Homo sapiens: one gene and its partners. The protein of the gene in region 4 interacts with the protein of the main gene of each other region in a pairwise test. Each region holds a gene or a part of one and is shown on either strand. Other genes may lie near its edges.

Region 1 (3,500 bases), on a different chromosome or scaffold from region 4:
TTTTGCTTAAACATTACACGCAGAAGTTAGCAGTTCAAACACTGAACCAGTTTCAACATGAATGCCAGTTGACAGCCTTTGCTTCTACCCGCCATACGGCAGGTGTCATATGATATGACTCCAGCAGTGTGAACCGTGACCAGCAGCAGGAGGCTCAGATGTGCCTGAACAGAAAACCAAAGGAGGCACCGTGTTTTAACTTTCCAGCATGGCACGGGCACGGAGGACTTTTTCTTCATTTCCTTCTGGGCAGAGTTTGGTCCCCCAGGATTAAGAGAGAATAAGTTTACTAAAATCCAAACAAAGCAGGTTCAGTTGTTTGACTTCAGTTTTAGAAAAATAAACACAGGATTTTGCAAACCTAAAAATAAAGTTTTCTCTTTATTGTATTGTTGTTCTTGTGTTTTAAAACGTCAGTGGAGAAATTGTAATGCTCTTAGGAGTATTCTGGTTCATAAGTTTATTCATGACCTGGAAATGATGTAAAATCGATGGGAGGGAGCTTTATATTTACAGAGGGGTTAAAAATGTTGGAAATTATTAAATTCCTTCTTCCAGACATTGATATCCTTGTCTTAGTAGATTTCAAATATTTCTGTCTTTTTGGAGGCTTTCCGACCTGTTTATACTCTTCAGCCTTGTTAATCTTTGTTCCTTACCTCTCTAAAGAAGGAATTTGGGGGTGAGTTGAGCCCCCAAAAGTAGGTACCCCTACCTTTAGAAGTATAAGGGGCACTTAAAGCTATGCCAGTTGAAAACTTAGTTTATTTGTTGGGGGTGTTAATAATATTACCTAGATTTGCTAAACAGGGAATGAAAGTGAATCATATAAGTGTTTACTTGGCCATCCGTAATGGAATGGAGCAGCCTCAATGAACTTCTCATTCAAAGAATTGTAGTCATTGAAGTACTAATTTCTGTATTTGAATTAGGTGATTCCAGCAATGTTGTTATCTTTGCTGAATTTCTTCTGAGAAACCCTAGACTCCTGCCTCAGCAGGAGTTTGTTTGATTTTCTTAGGGTTTTTGCAGGATGCACCTTTCTTTATGTAGTTTTATACTAGATTTCTCAGCATTGCTTCACTTTTGTCCCGGGTGGTCATTTAGAATGACCTAAAAGTAACAAATTGCCATCTTAGTCAACACGAAGAATTTGAGTTCTAGAATCCTGGACATGGTTTGACAGAGGGTTCCTTTGAATGCTTTATTTCTCTCCTGTGAGGCATTGTTTATCCATTCAGGTGCGTTTTACTCAGGTCCAGGTAATAGCACATATGGCCAGGTCTTTAAGGAGCAACAGCCTCTTGTAAAATGAGATTGTAAATAGCCCTGGGCATTCCCACTTTGCTCTGTGCTCTCAGAGTTTCTGTGGATTTCTATGGTTTGGGGGTTAGAATTGGTTTTTATAGATATCCTAGAGGCAGTTTGAGGACAGTGGTACCTTCGCTGGCGCTAGGGTAAGGGAGCCGGAGCACTGAGTGTGTTCTGATCTCCCAGACCTTTATACCAGGCTGCCTTGCTGCTGCAGTGGGTTCTTTGATCTTGATTAGTTTGTTTGTTGTTGTTTTTAAAATACTAAATGATGTCTGAAATGCTTTGTCTCAAGACAGGGCTTTGATTTTCATTTCATTTCACTTTCTTTTTTAATAAATAGAAAAATGTATATAGAAATGTTCTTTTGTATTTTGTATTTTTTTTTTTTTGATAAAGGGTCTCACTCTGTCACCCAGGCTAGAGTGCAGTGGTGCAATCATACCTCACTGCAGCCTCGAACTCTTGGGCTCAAGTGATCTTCCCACATCAGCCTCCTGAGTAGCTGGGTCTATAGGTGCAAACCATCATGCCTGCCTAATTTTTTTTTTCTTTTTTTATTTTTAAGAAATGGGGGTCTCACTATGTTGCCCAAGCTGCTCTTGAACTCCTCCGCTCAGCGATGCTCCGGCCTTGGCTTCCCAATGTGTTGGGATTACAGGCGTGAGCCACTGTGCCTGGCCTCTTTATATATATATATATATATATATATATATATATATATTTTTTTTTTTTTTTGTAAGAGTCTTGCTCTGTTGCCTGGGCTAGATTGCAGTGGCGCCATCTCAGTTCACTGCAGCCTCTGCCTCCTAGGTCCAAGCAGTTCTCCTGCCTCAGCCTCCCGAGTAGCTAGTATTACAGGCCTGGCTAATTTTTGTATTTTTTGATAGAAACAGGGTTTCACCATGTTGGCCAGGCTGGTCACAAACTCCTGGTCTGAAGTAACCCGCCTGCCTCAGCCTCCCAAGTTGCTGGGATTACAGCGTGAGTCACTGTGCCCGGCCTCTTTTGTATTATTTTTATTGTGGTAAAATATACACAACAAAAATTGTACCATTTTAACCGTTCTTAAAGTGTGCAATTCAGTAGCATTAATTATATTTACAAGATAAATACTCTTTTAAATGTGCTGTCATGGGGCTGGGGGGAGAGATCTCAAGATCTCTCTTGAAACTGTGGTAAAGTGACTGCAATCCTTTATTTATGCATTTGATTTTTAACTAGTGATATTATGAATTCTTCCCTGACTTTTATGGTTTATTGTATAGTACATTTTGTGATGGTGTTTGAAAATAAGTTGCAGCAGTGCCGGCTCTGGAGTCTGACAGCCTGGCCTGTTTCATGTCCTGCAATGGCGGTCACTGACGCTGCGACCTTGAGCAAATGACTTAGATGTGTCTGCACTCAGTTTCCTCATTGGTAACATAGGGATGATAAAAATAGGGTTGTGAGGAATGAGAGAATGTAAAGCACTGAGAATCGTGCCTGGCACACAGCATGCTTTCAATTAGTCTTAGCCATAACTTCTATAGACTTCATTTGCTAATCAGATGCAAGTTATCAGGAGAGAACACAGTCCTATCTTTGGCAGGATTCTGGAGTGGCTTGAAGATTTCTGTGCTATGTTTCTAGCAGGGAGGAAGTGGGAAAGAGAGGTTGTTCCCTATTCCCACTCTTGTGCTGGGCTGCTGGAAGGGGCTTACAAGGGGAGAGGCCCCTGGGGATCTGGCTTCCCCTTGCACCTCCACTGCTGTGGGAGGAAACTGAAGAGACCTGTGGAGCTCCTGGCAATTTGGACAGCTCAGGGGTTTAGGTGCCAAATGGCCCTCTGACAAGTGATGAGAGCATCCTGCGGGAAGGTTGCTGAAGAGGAGCAGCCCATTATGAGAGGGCTCCGAGAACAACCTGCTAGGACTGCACTTTTCCTCCACCTCTGAGTTTGCCCGGAGGCTGCCATGCTGGCAGGAAATGCTGCTGACTAAAAGAAACGCTCCCTGTGTGTCCCAGCCAGTGCGAGGACAGAGGCCTTCATTTTCAGATAAAGTCATCACCATTGCTTCCCTGTCTCCTTCTTTCCCTCTTTGCTTTTCCCTCAGTTTATAAATATTCTCAAGCCTGTCTCTTATGTTTAAATGACAAAAGAGAACAAAACAAAACACTCTCCCTACTTCTTTCTCCTCTGGCTACTC
Region 2 (3,500 bases), on a different chromosome or scaffold from region 4:
GTCAAGAAATGTCAAAGAACAATCAGAGGGTGTGTTTGTCTGTCTGTGTGTATGTGTGGGTTTGAGGGAGGGTGGAATTGAAGAGAAGAAAGGGATATCTGTTAGATCCCACAATTTTTAGGTTTAAATTAACATATTTTTTTCCAAATTCATTTCATAATGCCAACAGAGCTTTTTTTCCTCAGGTGACAGGTTATGTTCAAATTTCAGAAACAAGTCTGACAGCATGTATCCAAACATGTAGATCGCTGAATTTTTCATTTTATAGTTGCCTTTAAGGCCTGAGATGTACAGAAAAGAATATTGTCAAGATGGCCTGGGTTCAAATCCTAGCTCTGGCACTTAATAGCCGCACAACTGTGATACTAAGACAATTGAAATGACTTGCTTTGTTTCCAGGTTAGTATATCAAAGATTTAAAACCTAGTACAAAAAAATAAGTGTGTTGCAAAGATTTTTTGTTTTGTTTTGTTTTGAGATGGAGTCTTACTCACTCTGTAGTCCAGGCTGGAGTGCGGTGGTGTGATCTCGGCTCACTGCAACCACCGTCTCCCAGGTTCAAGCAGTTCTCCTGCCTCAGCCTCCCGAGTTGCTGGGATTACAGGCATGCACCACCATGCACAGCTAATTTTTGTATTTTTAGTAGAGACTGGGTTTTACCATGTTGGCCAGGCTGGTCCTGAACTCCTGACCTCAATTGATATGCCCACCTCGGCCTCCCAAAGTGCTGGGATTACTGTGCCTGGCAGTTCTTTTTTTCTGAATAAAGTTAACAAAAGGTATTTTCCTGGTTCTTTAGTTTCTAAGACACATAATCTATGAGGGACCTTGCTAGGTGCCAGGAAGCTGACCAAGGTAAATCAAATGTAAATCTGTCCTCAAAGAGTTTACAGACTGTAAGTTGGGGGAAGACATCTATAATTATTTCTAATATTGCCATAAGAGGGAGATGATTCAGTATCTGATCAAGAAAGGGGGTTTTGATCCTGGTTATGTGACAGAGTCACTTGCGAAGCTTTGTTAACATGTGAATTCCCAGACTCTATCCCCCAGAGTTCTAATTTGATAGGATTGGGTTACAGTCCAGCATTTGTTTGCATTTTAAAGCTTCAGAGGTGATACTAACTACCTGAGAATATCTGGCAAATGGGTTTGCAGTTACACCAGTGGTTCTCAACCATGGCTACACATTGGAATAAACCAGCAAGTCTTGAAAAGTCCCCCTGTCCCGGCTGTACCTGAGACCTGTTAAATCTGGATCTCAGGTGGTGGGGCACTGGCATCAATATTCATAGACATTTTTAAAGTTTTCCAGGCTGGGCATTGTGGCTCACACCTGTAACCCCAGTGCTTTGGGAGCCTCAGGGAGGAGGATTGCTTGAGCCCAGGAGTTCAAGACCAGCTTGGGCAACATAGGGAGACTCCCATCTCTACAAAAAATGAAAAAATTAGCTGGGCATATTGGTTCATGTCTTTGGCCCCAGCTACTTGGAGGCTGAGGTTTGAGGATTGCTTGAACCTAGGAGATGGATGCTGCAGTGAGCCGTGATTCCGCCACTGCACGCCAGCCTGGATGACAGAGCAAGATCTTGTCTCAAAAAAAAAAAAAAAAAAAAAAAAAAGAAAAAAAAAATCCAAGTCTTTCAGGGCTGGTTGGAGGGAATGAAAATGTGTGCAAAGTGCCTAGGTATAATGCCTGATGTGTATTATATGCTCAACAAATACTGTTTGATTAATTAACAAGCATGTTCCATAAGAAAGGTTTGGAATAAGATCTTCAGGAGTTCAGGGTAGGAAGAAAATACTTTCAGCTGAATGGATCCAGGAACATTTCAATTGGTGTCAGCAGGAGAAAAGACAGAGATGGGGCCCAGATGGCAGTACAATCAATGGAAATTGGCAATGGGACCTGAGGAGAAGAGCTGGTATCATAATTTTTGTGCCTGTCCCACAGGACGATGACGACAATAGACTAAATGGTAAATGGTAACCAAATGGTAACCAGTGGAGACAAAGATGATTTCCCTGTGAACAGTTTGTACTTGAGCAGCCTGGGAAGATCCTGGAGAAGGTGTTCAGGGGATAGTCGAAAATAAGAGTTAGGCACTTAAGTGATGATAGTTGAAGGTATAGTTCTGGAAGGTTATTTTTTTTTCTTCCTGGAGGTGATAATTAAAACCAAGAAATTCAATAGAATTGCCAAAGGAGAAAACATACATAAGAGTGCCAAAGGCATTTTTACCCACTTTGAGTAGCTGAAGCCTCAGGCAACTTATGTTTTTGTTTTTTGTTATTCTCTAAATTGAGGTCCTCTTGCTCTAGAATAATTTTGTTTAAAAAATAGCACTTTTCTGAAAGCTCTTAAGCACCCTTTTTCTCCATCCACAATTCCATTCTAACATAAATGCCAGGCTTGCCATACCACCACCAATCCCAGTGCTAACATATCAAAGAATGGATATGGCTTCCTTGTAAAGTTAAGTAGGTGAATGTAAAATGATGGTGAATACAAATATATAAGCCTAGATTCTAATATGTCAAGAGCCATGAAACTATAAAAAGAATCTACTTTAAAATGAAAGGAATATTGGTGGGGGGCGGTAAAAATAACATTGTATTGGGAAACAGAACATCTGTTTTCAGTCCTGGTTCTGGTAACTTTGGCAAGTCTTCTAGCTTGGTGAGGGTAGGATTTCCTCAGATATAAAATGGTGTCAAAGAATCAGGCAATGATGCCTACAATTCTCACTCATCTCTAGGGAGTTCTATAACCAAATGTCTAATGGAGTGGCACTTCCTGTGCTGTAGCATTACCCCACCTCCTCCTTTACAGCCCCATAGTGGGGGCAGGAGTTTCAGAATACAGCTGCAAATTGATAAATTCAGCTTAATAATTCATTAGTAGGGATCTTATAGATCATATTTGAATTGAAATAAGCTTTGGTTCTGGCCAATGCTGGGTAAAAGCTGCCTCAGTGTTCAAAAAGTTCATCTTAATCTGGTCTTAAATCTCATCTACAGACATTCTTCAGAAGAGCTTTCTGAACTAAAAGATTCTTTGCCCCTGAGCTCAGTGTTACATAAGAGCTCGATCCTCATGTTTCCTTTCATTGTTCCTGTTTTATCACAAAAAGCTGTACAAAAATGCTAAAGCTCATATTTTTCTAAACTCCTTACACAGCACTGCCCGGATGCCAGCAACAGTGAAGCAGAATGCACAAGATTACTGAGTTGAAATCCCATCATCTTTGATAAAAATGTCCACATTAGCATTATTTGATCATCCCATAGTGAGGAAATCATTGTTTGACTTTTATTTTTCTTCTCTGCTGCAAGGAGTGACTGTGTGTGATGCTGTTAGATGCATGTCCGCAGAGTTTAGGATGAATGTGGGAGTGTTAACAAGCCACATTATTTGGGCAAATGTATATTTCTGTTCCTGCCATATGCTCCTTTCAGTTTTCTGTTGGTGATACACTCTTAGATGTGCTCCACTAATA
Region 3 (3,500 bases), on a different chromosome or scaffold from region 4:
CAGGTTGCATAAGGAGGGGTGAACCGGCCCAAGTTGGAAACAGAGCAGGTCAAAACTCCCATGCCGATGAGTAGTGGGATTGCACCTGTGAATACCCACTGCGCTTCAGCCTGGTGACATAGCAAGACCCCATCTCTAAAAAAAGAAAAGGAAAGAAAAAAAGAGGGTGCTGAGAAGACTTGCAGTAAAGGTGCCTGTTTACATAGCATTTGCTGAAGGACATTTCTCCAAAGAAAACATACAAATGGCCAACAGGCGTATGAAAAGGTGGTCCACATCACTAATCATCAGGGAAATGAAAATCAAAACCACAATGAGCTGTCACCTCACACCTGTTAGGATGGCTGTTCTCAAAAAGACAAAAGATAACAAGTGTTGGGAAGGATGTGGAGAAAAGGGAACCATCAGACACTATTGGTGGGAATATAAATTGGTATAGCTATTTTGGAATAACCAAAATATGGAGGTTCCTCAAAAAGTTAAAAATATTTTAGTACTAATATACGATCCAGTAATCCCTCTTCTGGGTATATATTCAGAGGAACTGAAATAAATATGTCAAAGAGATATCTGTTCTCTCTTGTTCATTCAATATTATTCACAATAGTCAAGATATGGAACCAGCCTAAGTGCCCATCTACAGATGAATGAAGACATTGTGGTGTGTGTGTGTGTGTGTGTGTGTGTGTGTGTGTGTATACCACAATGGAAAATTATTCTGCCTTAAAACAACAAAAACCAAAATCTTGCCAATCTTGCCATTTGCAATAACATGGATGAACCTGGAGGACATTATGCTAAGTGAAATAAGCCAGACACAGAAAGGCAAATACTGCATGATTTCACTTGTATGTGGGATCTAAAAAAAGTGAATCTCATAGAAACAGAGCAGAAAGGGGCTTACTAGGGGGTAGTGAATGGGGAAAATGGAGAGATATTGGTCCAAAGGGTACAAAATTTCAGTTATGTAGGATGTAGCAGTTCTAGAGATGGAATGTACAACATGATGGCTATAATGAATAACACTTGAAATGTACTAGGAGAATAGATCTTAATTGTTCTCACTATCACCACCACAACAAAAAAGGTAAGTAGGTGACAAGATTGATAATGTTAGTTGGCTTGACTCTAGTAATCAGTTCACTATGTATTTGTATATCAAGACATCATATTATATACCTTAAACATAAACAATTTTTATTAAAAAATTGAAAGTAAAATAAAATAAATAGCATTTGCCATGCTTATTTTTCCACAAAGGCTTTTTTCTTTTAACACCTAATTAAAATCCTGTGAAACTCATTTGGAAACCCCTGGCATAGTGGTTTTGAGCAAAGTTAAAGAGATCTTGTTTTAAATTCTATTCCTGCCACTTAATAACTGTGTGTCCCTGGGTAAGTTGTTACAATTTTATGAATCTTGGTTTCCTTGTCTGTCAAATGGCAGAGTAATACCTACTTCATCTAGTTGTTACCGGGGTTTAAGGAGATAATAAATGTAAAATGTTTAAACACTGTGGCTGGCATATAGGATTAACTTTTCAGAATAAGCAGCACTCTTAGTTTTTTTAGTCTAACTTTAAGTGTAACATAATGCTATTATAACCATTTTTAAGTATATAGTTTAGTAATGTTGTACATATTCATATTGTTGTCCAACGTATCTCTAAAACTTTTTTCCCCCAAAACTAAAACTCTGTACCCATTGAACAGCACCTCCCTGCTTCTCCCTTTTCACAATCCCTGGTACCACCTTTCTCCTTCCTGTGTCTGTGAATTTGACCATTGTAGGTACCTCACATGAGTAGTATAGTTGCTTTTATTACAGAAAGTGGGAGATGAGAGAATGCTTCACTTTTACATTTTTTCCAGTGGCCAGGCCCCAGTTTCAGTCATCACCAGTACCTTGTTGTGTTGTAGGCATCCCTAAAACTTCAACCAAAGGCAATGGGGTCTGCATTATAGACACTTAATAGCACAAGAGAAAAGGAAGAAGGAAATTGTGTTTGTCTTTTGATCATCAAGATAAATGCCTGGCACGTGGTAGATTCAAAGAGTGAATGAAATTTGTTTCCTCTGAACCATAGTCCTCAGCAGGTGGAATGGCAGTGGATGGTGTGAGGTTCCCACAATGCCCAGGTGTATCACCATCTAGCCGGGGAGCTGCCTTTCCTTATTCTGCAGCTGCTAGGCCATCAGCACTTTGTGGGGACTGCCCAAGCCCTAAGGGGAAATGTGGTAGTTTCAGCAGGTGGAGTTGATTCTCCTTTTCCAGGTATAATGGATCGGTGGAGATTTAGATAAGAAAAAGTAGCATTCAGCAGTAGAAAATGTACTACTCCTGGCTCTGCTATTGAGTCATTTAGTCAAATCACTTCATCTCTTTGGGTATCAGTTTTCTCATCTGTAAAATGGGCAGTTCAACCAGATTAGTAGTTTTTTTTTTTTTTTAATATTGAAAGCATTTATTAAGCAACAGAATTCTCTCTTTTTTTTTTTTTTCTTTAAGCGAGAAGTAGATGTGGGGAGGGGTTGTTGCATTTTTAAAGATTCCTGTATTAGGCCGGGTGCGGTGGCTCACGCCTGTAATCCCAACACTTTGGGAGGCCAAGGCAGGCAGATCACCTGAGGTCGGGAGTTCAAGACCAGCCTGACCAACATGGAGAAACCCCATCTCTACTAAAAATACAAAATTAGCCGGGCGTGGTGGCGCATGCCTGTAATCCCAGTCACTAGAGAGGCTGAGGCAGGAGAATTGCTTGAACCTGGGAGCCAGAGATTGTGGTGAGCCAAGATCGCAGCATTGCACTCCAGCCTGGGCAACAAGAGTGAAACTCCATCTCAAAAAAAAAAAAAAAAGATTCCTGTATTAGTCTGTTTTCACACTGCTGATAAAGACATACCTGAGACTGGGCAATTTACAAAAGAAAGAGGTTTAATTGGACTTACACTTCACGTGGCTGGGGAAGCCTCACAATCATGGTGGAAGGCAAGAAAGAGCAAGTCATGTCTTACATGAATGGCAGCAGGCAAAAGAGAGAAATTGTGCAGGGAAACTCCTGTTTTTAAAACCATTAGATCTCATGAGACCCATTCACTATCATGAGAACAGCACAGAAAAGACCCACCCCCATGATTCAATCATCTCCCACCGGGTCCCTCCCACAACACTTGGGAATTATGGGAGCTACAAGATGAGATTTGAGTGGGGACACAGAGCCAAACCACATCAGTCCCATTGGGAACAGTGTGGGAAAGAAATTGGAAGATGCACAAGTGGATGTGGAGGCACTCACTGCTCCAGGTAAGAGACAGGACATTGACTTAGCAAGACTTAACAGCAGGAGAGTGGAGAGAAAAGGGGGCCATGGAGAGAGATTTAGCGGGGAAAAGTCATTGAGGCCTGCTCATGGACTGGGCATGGGGAAAATGCAGAGGAAGATGTCAGGAGCAACTCCTAGTTGTTCACTTTACATGAAAGACTGTAGTGTTGATCCACTG
Region 4 (4,074 bases):
CTACACTGTTTGAAAGGTTTGTCTTTGTTCTTGTAGCAATAGTTTTGCCGTTGTGTGTCTACTGTACTAAGACTTGGGGCTCAATGAGCTTTTTGGCCCATTTGATTAACTTACATATTTTTCTCCATAGGAAGCAGCCATCAGTTGCTGGGTCCAGTTCAGTGATGGCTCAGTCACGCCCTTGGATATTTACGATGGGAAAGACTTCTCCTTGATGGCCACATCTTTGGATGAGAAGGTAGTCTCCATCCACCAAGACCCCAAATTCAAGTGGCCTATCATTGCTGCGGAAACAGAAGGACAAGGCACCCTGGTCAAGGTGGAAATGGTTATTAGTGAATCCTGCCAGAAATCCAAGCGGAAGAGTGTGTTAGCTGTTGGAACGGCAAACATCAAAGTTAAATTTGGCCAAAACGATGCTAACCCCAACACCAGTGACAGCAGACACACAGGGGCAGGGGTTCACATGGAAAACAATGTCAGTGACAGAAGGCCCAAAAAACCCTCGCAGGAATGGGGGAGTCAGGAAGGACAGTACTATGGCAGTTCTTCTATGGGACTCATGGAGGGACGGGGCACCACGACAGACAGGTCCATCCTGCAGAAGAAGAAAGGCCAGGAAAGCCTTTTAGATGACAACAGCCACTTGCAGACCATCCCCAGCGACCTCACCAGCTTCCCAGCCCAGGTGGACCTCCCCAGAAGCAATGGGGAAATGGATGGGAATGACCTTATGCAGGCATCCAAAGGGCTGAGCGACTTAGAAATTGGGATGTATGCTTTGTTGGGAGTCTTCTGTTTGGCCATTTTGGTCTTCTTGATAAACTGTGTGACCTTTGCATTAAAATACAGACACAAACAGGTTCCCTTCGAGGAGCAGGAAGGGATGAGTCACTCTCATGACTGGGTTGGGTTAAGCAACCGGACAGAGCTGTTGGAGAATCACATCAACTTTGCCTCCTCGCAAGATGAGCAAATCACTGCCATTGACAGGGGCATGGATTTCGAGGAAAGTAAATATCTCCTCAGCACAAACTCCCAAAAAAGCATCAATGGGCAGCTGTTCAAACCTTTGGGACCCATCATCATTGATGGGAAAGATCAGAAAAGTGAGCCCCCAACATCCCCTACCTCAAAAAGGAAAAGGGTAAAATTTACCACCTTCACCGCCGTCTCCTCAGACGACGAGTACCCCACCAGGAACTCCATCGTGATGAGTAGCGAGGATGACATTAAGTGGGTCTGCCAGGATCTGGACCCTGGGGACTGCAAAGAGCTGCACAACTACATGGAGAGGTTACATGAAAATGTGTAAGCCAGACACACACAGACATTGGTTCTCACTCACCTTTCAGCCTTTAATTCCAGGATGTGTAGCAACGGTGCCCCCGGAAGAGAAACAAAGCAGCAGGACAAAATAAGGATGACACTATCCATACAGCCTCAGCCAATGACCCCGGCTCGGCGGCGAGGCCTGGAGTCCGCATCGACGCACACATTCCAGAGTACAGTGTCTTGCTTAAGAGGTTTATCATGCATGGCAAGATTTTTAAGACTTGAAACAAAAACGAGTTCTGAATCACTGAGCGTCTGAGAGCGTCCAGGAAAGAACAGCCTCTCTCTCTCGAATCAAAGCAATTTGGATATTGTAAAATCCACATGGCTCCAATATTCAATATTGCAGACTATGGAAGAAAAGTACAACTCAGGTGGAGCATCCATGGATCGCATCCATGGATCAATGGGAGGAAGCGTGTCATCGAAACTGGAGCAGCACATCTTGCTGTGAGCGCGATCACAGGCAGTCCAGTGCCGCCGTCAGCTGTGGGAGGCATGATTGTGAGTCATTGTCTCTCAAAGGCTGGGCCAGAGCTGTCTCAGATCATGGACAGGCCAAGGAAGTGGCTGACAAGGACTGAAAGGGAACATGTGGGCTAACAGGCCACAAATACCTTTGTAACTACATGCCAAGGACAAACACATGGACGCAAATCCTCTGAGCCCTTCAGGGTACTTCTTTATTTGTAAACTAAGGATACTGGGCATAGAATTTGAATCAGGTTCAAAGAACCACGCTCTTTTGATTCATATCAAGTTCACAATGTATCCATTTCTATTCCTCCACTGCATTGCCATCCTCCCCAAAGCCGTTGGTCACCTGTGGGTGGGGGAGGGAGAGGGCAGTTTGTAGTATTTGCTGGGTCTTTTTTCTCCCCCTGGGTTTTGTGTCAACTCCCAAGTGACATTCTGTAGAGAAGCTCCCCCCGCAACCTGGGCATATGTCCCACGCCGTCCGTCTTTGAAGAGGCTGGTCTCTAGGCATGGGCGGTAGTCACGGTGAATTCCATACCAGGGGATATACATTCCCTTGCTTTACTAGAAAGAAAACAGGGCCACTTGGGATGGGTCTTTCACTGTTCATGGCAGATCTCCTGTCCAAAGATGTGGCCTCGAGGCTGTTGAGACAAATCGGGGTGCCTGTGTGGAACGTGCAGGGCGTGTGGAGTTGGGGGGGTTCTGGGTGTGAAAGTGGTGGATCCAGCAGGAAGCCCAGCCTCACACACACCGGACAGCACAGAAACCTTCTTCATCTTGGAGGTGCGAAGGGATAAGGGGCATCAGTGCATGTGGTGAAGATGCAGGTTTGCAAGCACTTGGTCCTGCAGTCAGCCCCGAAAGGTTCAGCATTGCTTAAGACCAGCCATGACTCTGGATATCCCTGAATCCCTTCACTTATGAAGCCTATGAAGATGGGGGCAAGGATACATCAGAGAATTCCTGCCTCATCTCACGCTCACTCCAAGGTAGAGAATGGTGTGTTGGGTGATTGCCAGCCAGATAGGATCCTGCAAAAGATGGTCGGGGGCAGCGGGTGGTGGGCAGAAGAGGCCGTGCTGTTGAATTGATCTTCTATTTTTCCCTCTGGTCATTTTCTCTCTCTCTCTGCTCTTCAGTTGTCTGTTTTCCAGTCTCTCTGTGTGTCTGTCTCTGTATCTCTCTCCTCCTTTGAACCTATCTTCTCCCTGCTTCCTCTCCATCTCATCTCTGTAATTTTGAGTGTGTGTCTTTACTCCTTCTTCCTCTCCATAGAATTGAATTCTCTTTAGATCATGTGTGTGTAAATTTCACCAGTTTACCCTCCCAACCTTAGCCCTCTCCCCTGCAACTGTGGTGCTCTTGAGACTGAGGTTTCTGCAGCCAGTAAGTCACCTGCTCCTGTCCGCAAGCTTACCTACCTTGTTTGGTTGGGTGATTAAGCTGTCACCCCTTTTCAATGAGAATCCTTTGCTTTCAGTAACGTCCTCATATTTCTTTCCATTCTTACCTGTGTCATGTTCTGTTGAATACTGCAGCCGCTGCCCGCTTCCAAATCCATCTGCGTGTAGAATGTACTGTAGATTGTAAGAATGTAATATATATTTATAAACTTACTGACTGTAAATATAAAGTTTGCATTCAGTGGCTTTATGGCTGTCCTTTGTCTTCTACACGCTGACCCCCTCCAAGGGGCTGGCATCAATTGCAAATGGCTCTGCAAATGCTGCAGCTCTAAATGAAATGCTGATTGAAGGATCCCAGCACAATCCAGTTCCACCTTTACATCGTGTAGTGCTGCTCCCTGCATTGAGGGGATGTTGACACGTGATGACAAAGTGCATTGTGTACCAAGTATCTCTCCTCCAGGACCTGAAAGGATTTGCAAATAAATCACACGTGCAATTCTCTCCTAAAAGCCTGCTGACTGATGGTGGTAAGTAAGTGGAAACTGTGGCAGGCAAGCATGCATTCCAGCCTCCTTTTGGGCTGAGGTGAGGAAAATTCTCTGTCCTTCCTTTGGGTCTCGAGTGTACATACAACAACTCTGGACTGGGTTAAAAAGTTGATTGTAGATTCCTTTATCAACTGCAGCCCCAAGACAATTCTACGAAACAAGAAGATGCATGGAATCCTTATATTCATGCAAACAATAGCAAGTGATTGATAGGTCAATCATTTATTCAGCCAGTATTTACTGAGCAGCTACTCTACTCTGTAGCAGGAATAGCTGTGAGCACTAGAGACAGAGTCACACAT

What was found. The genes of interacting proteins can lie anywhere in the genome.
Region 1: the proteins of TMEM132D (region 4) and STK39 interact in a two-hybrid assay, tested with the Homo sapiens proteins (one large-scale study listed by BioGRID).
Region 2: the proteins of TMEM132D (region 4) and NPAS3 interact in a two-hybrid assay, tested with the Homo sapiens proteins (one large-scale study listed by BioGRID).
Region 3: the proteins of TMEM132D (region 4) and PGM1 interact in a two-hybrid assay, tested with the Homo sapiens proteins (one large-scale study listed by BioGRID).

What each region holds. Positions count from the first base shown.
Region 1 is NC_000002.12:168,241,096-168,244,595, reverse strand, and holds part of STK39 (STE20/SPS1-related proline-alanine-rich protein kinase), read left to right. Parts: intron 1-3,500. UniProt on the Homo sapiens protein: Effector serine/threonine-protein kinase component of the WNK-SPAK/OSR1 kinase cascade, which is involved in various processes, such as ion transport, response to hypertonic stress and blood pressure.
Region 2 is NC_000014.9:33,767,879-33,771,378, reverse strand, and holds part of NPAS3 (neuronal PAS domain-containing protein 3), read right to left. Parts: intron 1-3,500.
Region 3 is NC_000001.11:63,655,911-63,659,410, forward strand, and holds part of PGM1 (phosphoglucomutase-1), read left to right. Parts: intron 1-3,500. UniProt on the Homo sapiens protein: Catalyzes the reversible isomerization of alpha-D-glucose 1-phosphate to alpha-D-glucose 6-phosphate. The mechanism proceeds via the intermediate compound alpha-D-glucose 1,6-bisphosphate.
Region 4 is NC_000012.12:129,071,116-129,075,189, reverse strand, and holds the end of TMEM132D (transmembrane protein 132D precursor), read left to right. Parts: intron 1-114; exon of another isoform or gene 115-130; coding exon 131-1,315; 3' UTR 1,316-3,464; downstream 3,465-4,074. UniProt on the Homo sapiens protein: Regulate neuronals morphology via inhibition of the WAVE regulatory complex (WCR), a complex that controls F-actin cytoskeletal dynamics.